4 linked regions of the Homo sapiens genome follow. The protein of the gene in region 1 purifies or fractionates together with the protein of each later gene. This does not show direct contact. Each region holds a gene or a part of one and is shown in the gene's direction. Other genes may lie near its edges.

Evidence for each region. The genes of interacting proteins can lie anywhere in the genome.
Region 2: the proteins of C10orf88 (region 1) and WAPL purify together in Homo sapiens (affinity purification with mass spectrometry; one large-scale study listed by BioGRID and IntAct). This does not show direct contact.
Region 3: the proteins of C10orf88 (region 1) and NCKAP1 purify together in Homo sapiens (affinity purification with mass spectrometry; 2 studies listed by BioGRID and IntAct, with this or other methods). This does not show direct contact.
Region 4: the proteins of C10orf88 (region 1) and SNX4 purify together in Homo sapiens (affinity purification with mass spectrometry; one large-scale study listed by BioGRID and IntAct). This does not show direct contact.

Annotation. Positions count from the first base shown.
Region 1 is NC_000010.11:122,933,771-122,937,353, reverse strand, and holds part of C10orf88 (ATPase PAAT), read left to right. Parts: intron 1-3,583. UniProt on the Homo sapiens protein: ATPase that regulates mitochondrial ABC transporters ABCB7, ABCB8/MITOSUR and ABCB10. Regulates mitochondrial ferric concentration and heme biosynthesis and plays a role in the maintenance of mitochondrial homeostasis and cell survival.
Region 2 is NC_000010.11:86,501,220-86,504,889, reverse strand, and holds part of WAPL (wings apart-like protein homolog), read left to right. Parts: intron 1-3,670. UniProt on the Homo sapiens protein: Regulator of sister chromatid cohesion in mitosis which negatively regulates cohesin association with chromatin. Involved in both sister chromatid cohesion during interphase and sister-chromatid resolution during early stages of mitosis.
Region 3 is NC_000002.12:183,028,385-183,032,054, reverse strand, and holds part of NCKAP1 (nck-associated protein 1), read left to right. Parts: intron 1-3,670. UniProt on the Homo sapiens protein: Part of the WAVE complex that regulates lamellipodia formation. The WAVE complex regulates actin filament reorganization via its interaction with the Arp2/3 complex. Actin remodeling activity is regulated by RAC1.
Region 4 is NC_000003.12:125,454,130-125,457,799, reverse strand, and holds part of SNX4 (sorting nexin-4), read left to right. Parts: intron 1-434; coding exon 435-534; intron 535-3,670. UniProt on the Homo sapiens protein: Involved in the regulation of endocytosis and in several stages of intracellular trafficking. Plays a role in recycling endocytosed transferrin receptor and prevent its degradation.

The DNA of each region.
Region 1 (3,583 bases):
GGTATGTTAAGCATGTCATTGTGACATTTTCCTTGAAGATTATGTTTGGTCTAGGCAAATTCCTGATTATTAAAAAACTATATTAGGATAATAATCACTTGTAGTTTACAAGCTATTATCCCCAGTCTCTTAATCCCTTATTTTGGCAGTACATATTTGATTAAGAGATAGCTAAGTATTATGTTCCTAATTGCTTAAGTAGATATAGTATGTCAAAATGGTGTTCTAGACTAGAATTCAGGACTCTAGGTGTGGTTTTGGCTTAAACATGTTGCCACACTGTTTAGTATTCTTTAGCCTAAGAGATTTTATTTGAAAATGAGGTAGTTGGATGATTTTGTAACTAAACGCCACCACCAACCAACAGGATTGAGTTGACATTTATAGAGAACTCTACCAACAATAGCAGAATATACACTTTTTTCAAGCATCTATGGAAGATTTGCAAAGATAGATTATATCTTGAGTCACAAAGCAAATCTGACCAAATTCAAGAGGATTGAAATAATACAATGTGTGTTTTCTGACCATAAATGAATCTAACTAGAAACCAATAAAAGACAACAAAATTTCCAGATTTTTGGGAATTACACAGCATTCTTAAATTTATGGTTCAAGAAAAAGTCTTGACAGAAATTAAACCTATTACACAGAAATGAATGAAAATACAACACATCAAAATTTGTGGGATGCAGTTAAAGAAGTATTGATAAGGATATTTATAGCACTAAATGATTACATTAGAAAAGAGGATTGTTCTTAAATCAGTAGCGTAAAGCTACAGCTCAACCAAAATAAAATAATCTGAATAGTCCTATAACCATTAAAGAAATTGAATTTACAATTTTAAAGCCAAGCAAACTGATCTTAAAGCAAGCAGAAAGAAGGAAATAATAACAGAAATCAGTGTAACTGAAAACAAGCAAACAAAATCAATGAAGCCAAAAGCCAGTTCTTTGAAAATTTCAATAAAATTGATACACTTCAAACAAGACTATCAAAAGATAAAAAGAAGATGCAATCATCAGTATCCGGAATGTAATGAGATGTCACTACTGATCCTAAGGCCGTTAAAAGATAACAAGGGAGGGAATATTACAAACAAATTTATGCTCATAAATTTGACAACTTAGGAGAAATGGATTAATTTCCCCAAAACCACAAACTACCAACCAAACTCAGCCAACATGAAATAAGTAATAAAATAGTCCTATAACCACTAAAAATATTTGATTAATGATTGGAAAGCTCATGAAAAAGAAATATCCAGGCCCAGATGGCTACACTGAAGGTTTCCACTGAACATTTAAAGAACATCAATTTTACATGCTTTTAAAAACTAGAAGAGGAGGGAAGATGTTCCAACTCATTCTGTGAAGTCAGTATTAGCCTGACACCAAACTAGATTGCCCCCCAAAATTAAAATACACAAAAATGCATGTAAATATATGTAAAATATGTAAATCTATAAAAAATACTTATAAAATATATGAAAAAATTTATAAACCTAACAAAATATATAAGGATATGTGAAATGAAAATTATAAAATACTGACAAAGGAAAAGAAAAGCCCTAAAAACTGGAGAGACATACCATATTCATGGATTTGAAGACACAGCATAGTAAAAACGTCAATTCTCTCCTAGTTGATATATAAATTTAATGTAATTCCTATGAAAAATCGAGCATGATTTTTTATAAATATGAATGAGATGATTCTAAAATTTAGAAATGGAGAATTTTTTAAAATGGAAAAATAAAGGAACTATAAAAAATTTTGAAAAAGTGTAAGAGAAATCACTACTTGATTTCAAGACATAGCCACAGTATTCAAGACTGTGTTATTGTCAGAGGCATAGACTTATAGATGGATAGCACAGAAATAACTCTGCACAAGTACACCAACTGACGTTTGACAATGCAAAAATAATTCAATACAGGTAGAATTGTCTTTTTAACCTGTGCTGGAACAGTTGGATATCCACAGGCAAAAAATGAATTGTGACTTAAATCTTATACTTTATGCAAAAATTAACACAAAATTACTTATAGATTAAAATGTAAAATATAAAACTATAAAGCTTTTCTACAGGAGAAACTCTAGGGACCTAGGACTAGGAAATGAGTTCTCAGATATGACATCAAAAGCGTGATCCATAAAATAAAAAACTGATTTATTGGGCCCCATCAAAATGTAAAACTTTTGTTTATGAAAGACACTGTTAGGGGAATTAAAATACAGACTGGGAGAAATTCTTTGCAAATTACAAATCCAGCAAATGACCTGTCTCTGAAGTACATAAAGAACTCTCAAAACTCTATGTTAAAAGCAAATAAAAATAAAACCTAACAATCCAATTTAAACCATGGGCAAAAGAATAGTCATTTCAACAGACAGGATATACAAATAGCAAATAAGCACAAGGAAAGTTGATCAACATTGACTTAGTGACTATTAGGGAAATGCATATTAAAACCACAATATATCACTACATATTTGGATGGCTAAAATTTAAAAATGGTAACAATACCAAATGCTGACAAAGATGTTTGGGAACTGGATCTCTCATACATTGTTGGTAGGAATATAAAATGGTACAGTCACTCTAAAAAATATTTTGGCAATATCTTAAAAACTAAACATACAGTTACCGTACAACCCAGCAATTATACTCCTGGACATCCCAGAGAAATGAAAGCTCAGGTCCACACAGAAACTTGTACACAGTTATTAATAAAAGCTTTCTTTGTAATATCCCAGAAGTCCCAACTAAAATGTCTTAGCAATAGGTGAATGGTTAAACTATGGTACCTCCATATCACGCAGTGCTGATGAGCAGTAAAAAACAACTTGGACATCTCTCAAAGGCATTTTGCTGAGTGACAAAAGAGAATCTCAAAAGGTCACATACTGTATGATCTCACTTTATAATATTTTCAAAATAATAAAACTGTAGAGATGAACAACATATTGATGGTTACCAGGTATTAGGGAAAGAAGACTTTAGGGGAGTAGGTATGACAATAGAGGGGTAGCAGGGAGGAGATCATTGCAGTTAAAGAATGGTTCTGCCTTTTGATTATGGTGGTGTTTAAATAAATATGTGTACATATGATAAAATGGCATAGAACTATACACACACATCATATTAATATCAATTTCCTGGTTTTGATATTGGATTATAGGTAGATAAGATGTGACCATTGGGAGGATTGGATAAAGGGCACTGAGAAACTAATATCTTTGCAACTTCCTGTGAATCCATAATTATTTCAAAATACAGAGTTTCTTAAAAACTGTCTTTGGTGTATTCTAGAGTAGTGGCTCTCAGACTTTTGGTCTTTACACTCTTAATTGAGGACTCCAATAAACTTATGTAGGCTACATAAAAATATTTGTTTAAAAATAACAATAAACCCACTGTATATTAACATAAATAACAGTCTTTATGAAAAAAAGCCAGATTTTCTTTTAAAATTTTATTGAGAATAGTATTATTTTAAATGTACATGAATCTATACATAATAGCTTTTGGCTGCATTATCATGTATATTGAATTATAGCATGTATAGTGAAATATA
Region 2 (3,670 bases), about 36 Mb from region 1:
TAAAGGTTTTGGACAAAAAAGTTCTTTGGCATCAATTTTATTCCTATTTTTTGTTGTTTTTTGTTGTCAAGATGGAGCCTCGCTGTGTTGCTCAGGCTGGAGTGCGTGGCTACTCACACAGGTGTGATCATAACAGCAGCCTCAAATGAACCGCTGGCCACAGTGCCCTGGGTAGCTCTAGGTGGGACTATAAGCACGTACTGCTATGTCCCTGTTATTCCTTTTTCTTTTTTTTTTTGAGACTGAGTCTCGCTCTGTCGACGGGGCTCACTGCCACCTCTGCCTCCCAGGTTCAAGCGATTCTTCTGCCTCAGCCTCCCAAGTAGCTTGGACTACAGGTGTGTGCTACTACGCCCGGCTAATTTTTTGTATTTTTTAGTAGAGATGGGGTGTCACCGTGTTAGCTAGTCTGGTCTCGATCTCCTGACCTCGTGATCTGCCCACCTCTGCCTCCCAAAGTGCTGGGATTACAGGCGTGAGCCACCGCACCTGGCCTGATGGTTGCTTTGAGATAAAATAAATTAATAGAAAGTATTTAGAATACTACCAGGCACATACCGAGGGCTTATATAAATATAGTTCAGCTTTGTTTTACTTTGAGTTTTAATTGTGAGTGAAATTGAGTATCCTTCATAAGTTATTTAATTCATTATAGATATATATTTTAATGAATTGCTTCTTTGTGTTCTTGGCTTATTATTTATTCATTTATTTTTGAGGCAGAGTCTTGCTCTGTTGCCCAGGCTGGAGTGCAGTGGTGCTATCTCAGCTCACTACAACCTCTGCCTCCTGGGTTCAAACAATTCTTGTGCCTCAGCCTCCCAAGTAGCGAGGACGACTGGCATGTGCCACCACGCCTGGCTGGGTTTTTTTTGTCTTTTTAGTGGAGACAGGGTTTCACCATGTTGGCCACACTGGTCTCGAACTTCTGGCCTCAAGTGATCTGCCTGACTCGGCCTCCCAAAGAGCCGGCATTATAGGCCTGAGCCATTGTGCCTGGCCCCTAGCGCCATTTTCTACTGGGACATTGGACTTACTGATGTGTAAGGATTCTTGGTATATTAAGGAATTTACCTTTTGTGTTTCCCTAGCAACTAATGATAAGCATTTTTCATGTGTGTATTCTTTTTTTTTTTTGAGATGGAGTCTTGCTCTGTCACCCAGGCCGTGGTGCAGTGGTGTGATCTTGGCTCACTGCAAGCTCCGCCTTCCGGGTTCACGCCATTCTCCTGCCTCAGCCTCCCGGGTAGCTGGAACTACAGATGCCCGCCACCACGCCTGGCTCATTTTTTTGTATTTTTAGTAGAGACGGAGTTTCACTGTGTTAGCCAGGATGGTCTCAATCTCCTGACCTGATGACCCACCCGCTTCGGCCTCCCAAAGTGCTGGGATTACAGGCATGAGCCACCACACCCGGCGAAGTTTGTTTTCTTATCATGACAGCCATTCAGATATTTAAAGGCAGGTTTCATGTAATGGCAGTTTTCTTCCATCCCTGCACCAATTAAACCTTTCTAGTTGCCTCAACTGTATTTCATGGGTTATGGTCTCCAAGCCACTTTGTATCATTTGCACAGATTTCTTACAGGTTAAAGGCATTGTTTAAGTTTAGTCCTCAGCACACCGTGAGATAAACATTTGCTATTTCCACCTCAGCCTCCCAAAGTGCTGGGATTACAGGTGTGAGCCCCCGCGCCCAGCCAGTGAATTAGTTTTGTTGTTGTTGTTCTTTTAAACAGAGTCTCGCTCTTTTGCCCAGGTTGGAGTACAGTGACATGATCTTGGCTCACTGCAACCTCTGCCTCCCGGGTTCAAGCAGTTCTCCTGCCTCAGCCTCCTGAGTAGCTGGGACTACAGGCGCCCGCCACCACGCCTGGCTAATTTTTGTGTTTTTAGTAGAGACAGGGTTTCACCATGTTGGCCAGGCTGGCCTCGAACTCCTGACCTCATGATCCGCCCGCCTTGGCCTCCCAAACTGCTGGGATTACAGGCATGAGCCACCACGCCTGGCCTAGCATTTTAGTGTTTAGCAGCCACCACTAGACGTAGTGTAATATAGTTTGGTATGGGTCTTTTTTATGAAGTCTCTTTTGACTATTGATTTAATTGAGAACCTCTGCAGTCATTAGCCCCTCTGGGCCTTTTTTTCTCATCTGTGTAATGATGGGTTTGGTAAGAAATCAAAGGAAGTATCTTCATTTTCTTATAAGAGGGTAAAGGAAGTCTGTATATATTTGTGTGTATAGACTAGTATACAGTTACACAGATGTATACATTTGTGTGTTTATGTCTACAAAAATAATGTCTATTTGTATCTCCATCTCCATTAAACAGTTCAACTGTTTAATCTTCAACAAACAATTCATTGCCAGTCTTGTTTCATTTTTATCCTCACTAAAGTAAATTCAAGATGTTGTATTTGATTCATAAATATATTTTTTTAACAGATAAGGACTCCAAAAATATACAATTTTGGCATTTTTTATGTTTTGGCTTTTGAATAGACAACTTACATGCAGTATAAAATTCAAGAAGTATGAAAGTCTTTTCTTGTTCCTTATCCCTTAGTCATTCCATCTCTAAGAGCATCCATATCTGTACATAATGTAGAGCTGCCTCATTCTTTTTAACAACTGCATAGTATTCAGGTGTGTTGCTATATGGTAATTTAATTCTTTATTAATTGGTATATTGTTTATGAAAGCAAAAACCAGGAAACAGTGTTCTATTGAGTTTCTTGTTACTTATGTAATTTTGTGTTCGTGGAAAGTTATTTCTAAATACTTGTAAATGAAACTGCTGGCTTCAAGAGTAAGTCCTTTCTTTCACATGTACATTTTTAGTTTTAAAAGATATTACCAAATCTTAACCTGTTAAATTACATTAAAACCCTTTGGAGGCTGGACGTGGTGGCTCATGCCTGTGATTGTAGCACTTTGGGAGGCAGAGGCAGGACGTTTGCTTGAGCCCAGGAGTTCAAGACCAGCCTAGGCACCGTAGTGTGACCCTGTCTGTTAAATAAAAAGGGGAGTTAGGCAGGTGTGGTGGTGCACACCTGTAGTTCCAGCTGTTTGGGAGTGCTGCTCAGGAGGCTGAGGTGGGAGGATCACTTGAGGCCTGGAGGTCTCTGAAGCTGCAGTGAGCTGTGATCACACCACTGTATTCCAGTGTGGGTGACAGTGAGATCCTGTCTTGAGGGCAGGAAAACCTATTGGGTAGAATTAAAAATTATGCAGTGAATCTGTCCATGTAAAGCATCCCTCTCACCTGTATTTGATGATGCTAATTGAGATTTGTAAATAGCTTTTCTTAAATGTAGATGTATTTTGTAGAAGTAATTTTATTGTTTGGCATAGGGTATACATTTTGTCAGTGTTTTTCTACAAGTAAATGTTGAGGGAATTAATAATACCAGTTGGAATCATATTTGTATCTCATTTGGAAAGGTTGTAAAAATGTTCTGATAGTAAAAATTGAAGGCAACAAAAATGAATTCTCCACATACCAGATGAATAGGCAGGCTGAGGATTTATTACTGGCTGATATGCATAAATAGCCACTATTAGCCATTTAACTAACACACCAGAACTACTGCTAAAAATTCCCTTGAGATTATATGGCATTTAGGATTAGAAGAAAGAACAGAAATAGCTAGAGAAACCTGATCCTA
Region 3 (3,670 bases), on another chromosome or scaffold:
CTGAAATTGTTCCAATGTTAACTACTGAAATAACTGAAATGTAAATTCTTAAATACCTGTAATTTCTTTTCCTGCTAATTATTAACTGTGGTGATTTAATTTAGTTGTCTGGGTTATAACTAAATTTCTGGAAGGCTGCACATTGGCTGTCTACTAGCAAAACCAGCTCCATGGTACTTATTTGCTCTCAGCTTCTGTTATGCTTCAAGCTGTATTTTTTGGCTTTCTAAGCCTTGCTAGTCTTATTGATTCTAACTCTTGTAATCTTAAATAGATATTCCAGTTATCTCACGTTTTTGGAATACGCTTTTATTAACCTCATAGGTTAAGAGGAGAATTAAATGAGTGAATCCATAGGAAGTATTGGTACAGTGCCTTGTAGCAAGCGTAAGAGCTGAGGAAATGGTGGCTGTTGTTACTAGTTCTATTTCTGGGGCTTGGAACATAGTGGACACTTAATAAATGTTCATTCCCCCCCACCCCCAGATTAAATTAAGCTCAAGACTACCTTTTAGGAAACATTCCTCACTATTCTATTTTACTGCCTGATACAGTTTGACATCTACTTACTGCTAAGACAGAATAATTATTTGTATTTCAGAAGTATGTGTTCCACAGTAGTCCTTTAAATAACAATTTCTTTTTAACCGCAAAGGTATGACAATATATATACTTTAAAAAACTGCAAAAACACCTTTGCTTCATAAACTGAGATGATCCTGTATATTGGAAGCTGAAAACTGTTTAAAGGCAACAGTGACATATATATCTTCTTGTAAATGGAATGGTAATTAATAACTCATTTGAATCACTAAATTTTTTTCTTTTTTTTGAATCACTAATTTTGAAGTGTATAATGGGTTGAAGTTTTTCAAGTTCATGACTTTCTCAGAACTTGTGTCTAAAGGACAATAACTGTGATTTCTATATTTTTAGATCTCAATTATTGGCTCCAATTAAGAGGTAGTTATTGATAAAATTACATTAATTTGAAAGCATTTCCAATAATTTCAGTATACTTTGTTATCAAGCCTCTTAATCCAAGTTACTAGCAGTAGATTGCTCTCTTTTCTTTTTACCTACCTAAGAGGGAAAGTGCTAACTTAAAGCAGATCGGTTGGCCAAAATATACATCATAACACAGGAGGAAAAAAATAATCGGAAAGCTAACTACTGATGAATTTGAGTCTTATTTTGCTCTTGATATAAAGTTTTCCAGTACTTATGGACAATTTTCATACTGTAATATTTTCATTATTTAAAAAATTGGAACATAAAATAATCATAGGTATATATTACTTTTACATTCCATAATTTCAGGTAACGTCTATTCTTCCTCTAGGTATTAATTTCAATTTGTTGAAAACTCAGGGAAGAATCTTTGTCCCTTTATTCCTTCAATTTTGCAAAACGTGTGGTGTTTCTTGGTTATTAAGTCAAATTCCTCTTTCGAGTCTAAATTGGCCACATTTTGTATTTTTCTCCTCATCCTTGACATTATTCAGATGGGGCTGGTTTCTGTGCCCTCACGAATAGCATTCTCACTCTGACTCCTGAGATCTTGTTCATATTTTTTCAGTTAATTCATTGTACTAGAAAATCATTTTGTTCTTCCCTATTTTGGCATTTTTCCAATTATTGTACTAGAAAATAATTGTTCTTCCATATTTTAGCAAAGGAATGTGTTTTATTCCTGAGTTAGAATAGAAATTAAAAAATAAAACTGAAGCTAGGCACAGTAGTAGTGCGTGCTTGTAATCCCAGGTACTTAGGAGGCTGAGGCAGAAGGATCTCTTGAGACCAGGAGTTCAAGTCCAGCCTGGGCAATATAGCAAGATGCTGTCTCAAAAAAATAAAATGGATTGAACTGATCAGATTTTTACCGTGATAGCAACTGCTTCCTGAGGTTTTAAGCAGCGGAGGTTTTGAATAAGTGGAGCATGTTTTTAAACATTATTTTTGGGAGGGGACATATATTTTTAGATAGTGTTTTGGAATCAGGTATGAATTTCTCTGTAGGTCCTGTCAGTAGTTGTGAAATCTTGATCAAGTTACTTAATTTTTCAGAAGCTCCTTTCCTTTCTGTTGAGTGATAATTTAGATAATTTCTAAAGCATAGGTGTTTTGCACACAATAATTGCACAGTAAATGTTCTTTTTACTTCCAACATCTTTTGTATCTTGATTATTTTGTTGTTTTTTTTCCTTCTCTCTCTTTTTTTTTTTTTTTTTTTCGAGTCAGGGTCTCACTCTTGCCTAGGCTGGAGTTTGCAGTGGTTGTGAACAGGGCTCACTGTAGACTCAACCTCCCTGGCTCAAGCAGTCCTTCCATCTTAGCCTCCCAGGTAGCTGGGACCACAGATATTTACCACCACGTTTGGCTAATTTTTAAACATTTTGTAGAGACAGGGTCTCCCTCTTGCCCAAGGTGGTCTCAAACTTGTGGGCTCCAGCAATTCTCCTGCCTTGGCCTCCGCAAGTGCTGGGATTGCAGGTGTGAGCTACTGAGCAGTCTTTTTTTTTTGGTGTCTTGATTGTTGCTTAATCTCTTGTGAATAGATAGAGGAATTTTAAAAATCTGTATTTTTTTTTTTTGGCATCATGGTAAGTTCTTGGAAAAATAGTAACATTAACCATGTAAAGTTAAGCTGTGGTATGTAATCCTATGCTGTAATAGCTTGAGGAAAGGCCTCAGTATGGGGGTTTGTGGTAGAGTGGCAGAAAGATGTGTTTTAAAGTCATACTTTAAAATGGCATAGGGTCTAGGCTTGATGTTTCTAATCAAAGATGTTTCTTTTGTGGCCCGGATAATATATTGTGTAGTTTTCTGAAACATCCTTGTCCTTCATTTTTACTGATAACATCAGATTTGTGTTTTAAAAGGAACTTAGAGATATTGAATTGACTACTGACCTATAGTTTTTTTTTTGTTTCTTTTGAGACAGAGTTTCACTCTTGTTGCCCAGGCTGGAGTGCAGTGGCGCGATCTTGGCTCACTGCAACCTGCGCCTTCCGGGTTCAAGCGATTCTCCTGCCTCAGCCTCCCGAGTAGCTGGGATTACAGGCGCCAGACCATACCTGGCTATTTTTTTTTTTTTGTATTTTTAGTAGAAACGGGGTTTCACCGTGTTGGCTAGGCTGGTCTTGAACTCCTGACCTCGCGATCTGCCCACCTCGGCCTCCCAAAGTGCTGGGATTACAGGCGTGAGCCACTGAGCCCAGCCTAGAATTGTTTTTATGGAAAATCTTGTTTCCATAATTGAGAACTCACTATGTGTATCCATGTATATAAAGAAGTTTTATTTAAAAAAATATTTGGAACTTATTTATTAACTACATATGTGCCAGGCACCTAAATAAACAGTTTATGTGTATCTTATCTTTTAAATATTTTAACAGTGTACCCTATGCAGTAGGTAGTAATAATATCCTCAATTTATGGGTTAGGTAACTGAGGCTGAGAGGTTAGGCAACTTGCCTAAGGTCATATAGGCTATTATGCACTTGACCCAAGAGACAAGGGTTTTAATTACTATGTTTAAGTGTATCCTTTAACATCACTGTAATTTTATCTGTCACATAAAATAATCCTGACTTTTAAAATATTATAATTAGAATATTCATGGAGAATAAAGTTCCAATTCTGAGAACTGGAAATTTAAGTATATAAA
Region 4 (3,670 bases), on another chromosome or scaffold:
TTTGAGACCAGCCTGGCCAATATGGAGAATTCCCATCTCTACTAAAAATACAAAATTAGCTGGGTGTGGTGGCGCATGCCTGTAATCCCATCTACTAGGGAAGCTGAGGCAGGAGAATCATTTGAACCCGGGAGGCGGAGGTTGCAGTGAGCCGAGATCGCGCCATTGCACTCCAGCCTGGGCAACAAGAGCAAAACTCTGTCTCAAAAAAAAAAAAAAAAAAAAAAGAATATATGAAGTTTTTATGGTTAGGTTCTGCTAGATTCCATTAGATTCCATTTTTAATGTTGGGCTACTACATTTTAAACTTGAAAATTCTGGGCACACACATTCTGCCCTAGCGAGACATTGTGAATGGTTCTCCTCTACCCTTGAAAAAAATGTTTGACATGTTAAAGGAAAAGTTAAATGGCAGCACATTTTTTCATCTGTAGGGCTGTGTGCAGGAAACATGAACTTATGCAGTATGACTTGGAGATGGCTGCTCAGGACTTAGCATCCAAGAAGCAGCAGTGTGAGGAACTGGTAACTGGGGTGAGTATTTTCCTTTTGGCCTCTGATGATACTGTAGCAACACGGAATGTTCCTCACAAGCACTCACTCTGAGTGAGTAACTCACTCCTGTAGAATCAGTTCCAGTTACAATACTCAGGACGGCTGAACCTTTTACAGGGGAATAATTTGTGAGTAACTTTATAATTCTTTTATTATTATCTTGATACAAAATGATGTAAGCCATTAAAACCATGTACTGTATAGAATTATAAGAAATTTTGCCAACATTTCTCTGGTGTAATCAGTATCATCCGGTTTCGTTTTAAAAAAAAAAAAAATTATTGGGCTGGGCACGGTGGCTCACACCTGTAATCCCAGCACTTTGGGAGGCCAAGGCCAGTGGATCACCTGAGGTCAGGAGTTCGAGATTAGCCTGGCCAACATGGTGAAACCCGATCTCTACTAGAAATACAAAAATTAGCCAGGTGTGGTGCCTCACGCCTGTAGTCCCAGCTACTCGGGAAGGTGAGGCAGAAGAATTGCTTGAACCAGGGAATCGGAGGTTGCAGTGACCCGAGGTCACGCCACTGCACTCCAGCCTGGGTGACAGAGCAAGACTCCATCTCAAAAAAATTGTTTTTATTAATTTTTATTTTTTGAGACAAGGTCTGGTTCTGTTTCCCAGGCTGGAGTGCAGTGGTATGATCAGGGCTCATGGAAGCCTCAAACTCCTGGGATCAAGTGGTCTTCCTGCCTCAGCCTCTTGAGTAGTTGGGACCACAGGCATGTGCCCCCATGCCTGGCTAATTTTGTTTATAGTCTCATCATGTTGACCAGGGTGGTCTCAAACTCCTGGACTCAAGTGATCCTCCCACCTCCGCCTCCCAAAGTGCTAGGATTACAGGGGTAAGCCACCATGCCTAGTCTATCATCTGGTTTCTAAGTCCAAGTGAAAAAACATGCAGTGACCTTTATCAGGTTTAACTTTGCAAGGTACTTTGCAGAAATTTTAGTTGACTTTGAAAAGCCTTACCCACTTAGAACCAGTGCATCTCGCCTAACAGGGAGCTTTTGATGTACTTTATTCTTTAATGCTTACAGTGAGTACTTGTGAGGAAAATTCTGTACCTGATTGCATTAGTCTTGGATCATTTTTATAATCAGCTTTCTACTCCAGTTATTTCATTGCAATAAATCAGCCATCATGGTGAGCAACACACATTCTGAAAGTAGTAAACCAGCAGCAATGTCTCTACTTAGTTAATAAGCACTGTAGTTTTTGTTTGTTTGTTTGTTTGTTTTTAGACCGAGTTTCGCTCTGTTGCCCAGGTTAGAGTGTGGCTCACTGCAAGCTCCACCTCCTGGGTTCACACCATTCTCCTGCCTCAGCCTCCTGAATAGCTGGGACTACAGGCGCCTGCCACCACGCCCGACCAATTTTTTTTTTGCACTTTTAGTACAGACGGGGTTTCACCATGTTAGCCAAGATGGTCTGAATCTCCTGACCTCGTGATCCGCCCGCCTCGGCCACCCAAAGTGCTGGGATTATAGGCATGAGCCAGCGCGCCTGGCCAAGCACTATAGTTTTAAAAGTGCTTTTCACAGAGATTACCCACTGGCTACATCTGTGAAAAGTCACAGATATATGTGGGGAAAGACTTGTGACCAGGACACATGTATAAACTAGGCCCTTGGTTTATTTTTAAAACTCAGTGGGAGAAGTTCCCAGGCCATTTTCAGGGAGCTTGGTTCTCTATCCTACATGTCAAGGGAAAAGTGTTTTCTTCAGTAAACTCCAGAGAGTGAGGAAATGTTAAAGCAGTGAAGCTTGGGGTTGCCTTCCCATGCTTGGATTTAGGTATCCTGTTTTATTAATAGATGCCCAAGTTTGAGCGTTGAGTTATGCAGATTTTAAATATGCTTCTTTAGTTTGGTTTATTTCCATAGTTGCCTAGTGAATTTATCGACTTTTTTTATAACATAAAGTAATTTTTAAAATATCATTCATACAGAGTAAGAAATAACGTCTAATATTTCACGTGGAAGTTTTCCATTTGATTATGAAATTCAAGCCGGGTATGGTAGCTTACAATGGCAATCCCGACACCTTTAGCAGCAGAGGCGTAAACCCAGAATTGCTTGAGCCCAGGAATTTGAGACCAGTGTGGATTAATATAGCTAGACCCTGTCTTTACCAAAAATTTAAAAATTAGCTGGGTGTGGTGGCATGCACCTGTGGTCCCAGCCACTTGGGAGGCAGAGGTGGGAGGATCACTTGAGCCCAGGAGGTTGAGGCTGCAGTGAGCCATGATTGTGCCATTACATTCTAGCCTGGGCAACAGAGCAAGACCCCATTTCAAAAAAAAAAAGAAATTCAGTTAGAAGTGTCTTCTTTTTGACTACTCCATATTATTTCAGTGTTAGAAATTCTATTAGGATTCTTGGCTATGACTCTGTAAAAATAAATAAAAACTCATATAAGAGATCCCTGGTTGTGAAGCTTATGGTGGTTTTGTCTGACTTAGGGGAAATATGGCAAATGTTTTCTATTTCCTTTGTGTGTGTAGTGAAATATATATAACATAAAATGTACCATCTTGTCCATTTTTAAGTATATAGTTCAGTAGTGCAGTCATCCCTCAGTATCTTCAGTGAGATTGGTTTAAGGATCCCTGGGATACCAAAATCCTCAGATGCTTAAGTCCCTTCTATAAAATGGTGTAGTATTTGCATGTAACCTGTGCATATCCTTTTGTATACTTTAAATCAGCAGTCGCCAACCTTTTTGGCACTAGGGACCTGTTTTGTGGAAGACAGTTTTTCCATGGACCAGGGCAGGGGGTGCTGAGGATGATTTCGGGATGAAACTGTTTCATTTCAGATCATCTCAGGCATTAGATTTTCACAAGGAACACACAACCTGGATCCCTCACATGCGCAGTTCACAATAGGGTTCGTGCTCCTAAGAGAATCTAATGCCTCTGCTGCTGATCTGACAGGAGGCAGAGCTCAGGTGGTCGCTTGCCTCCTGCTATGCAGCCTGGTTCCAAACAGGCCATGGACTGGTATCACTCCGTGGCTCTGGGGTTGGGGACCCCCTGCTTTAAATTATCTCTAGATTATTAATACCTAATACAGTGTAAACACTGGTGTCTCATATAAGTGGAATCATACA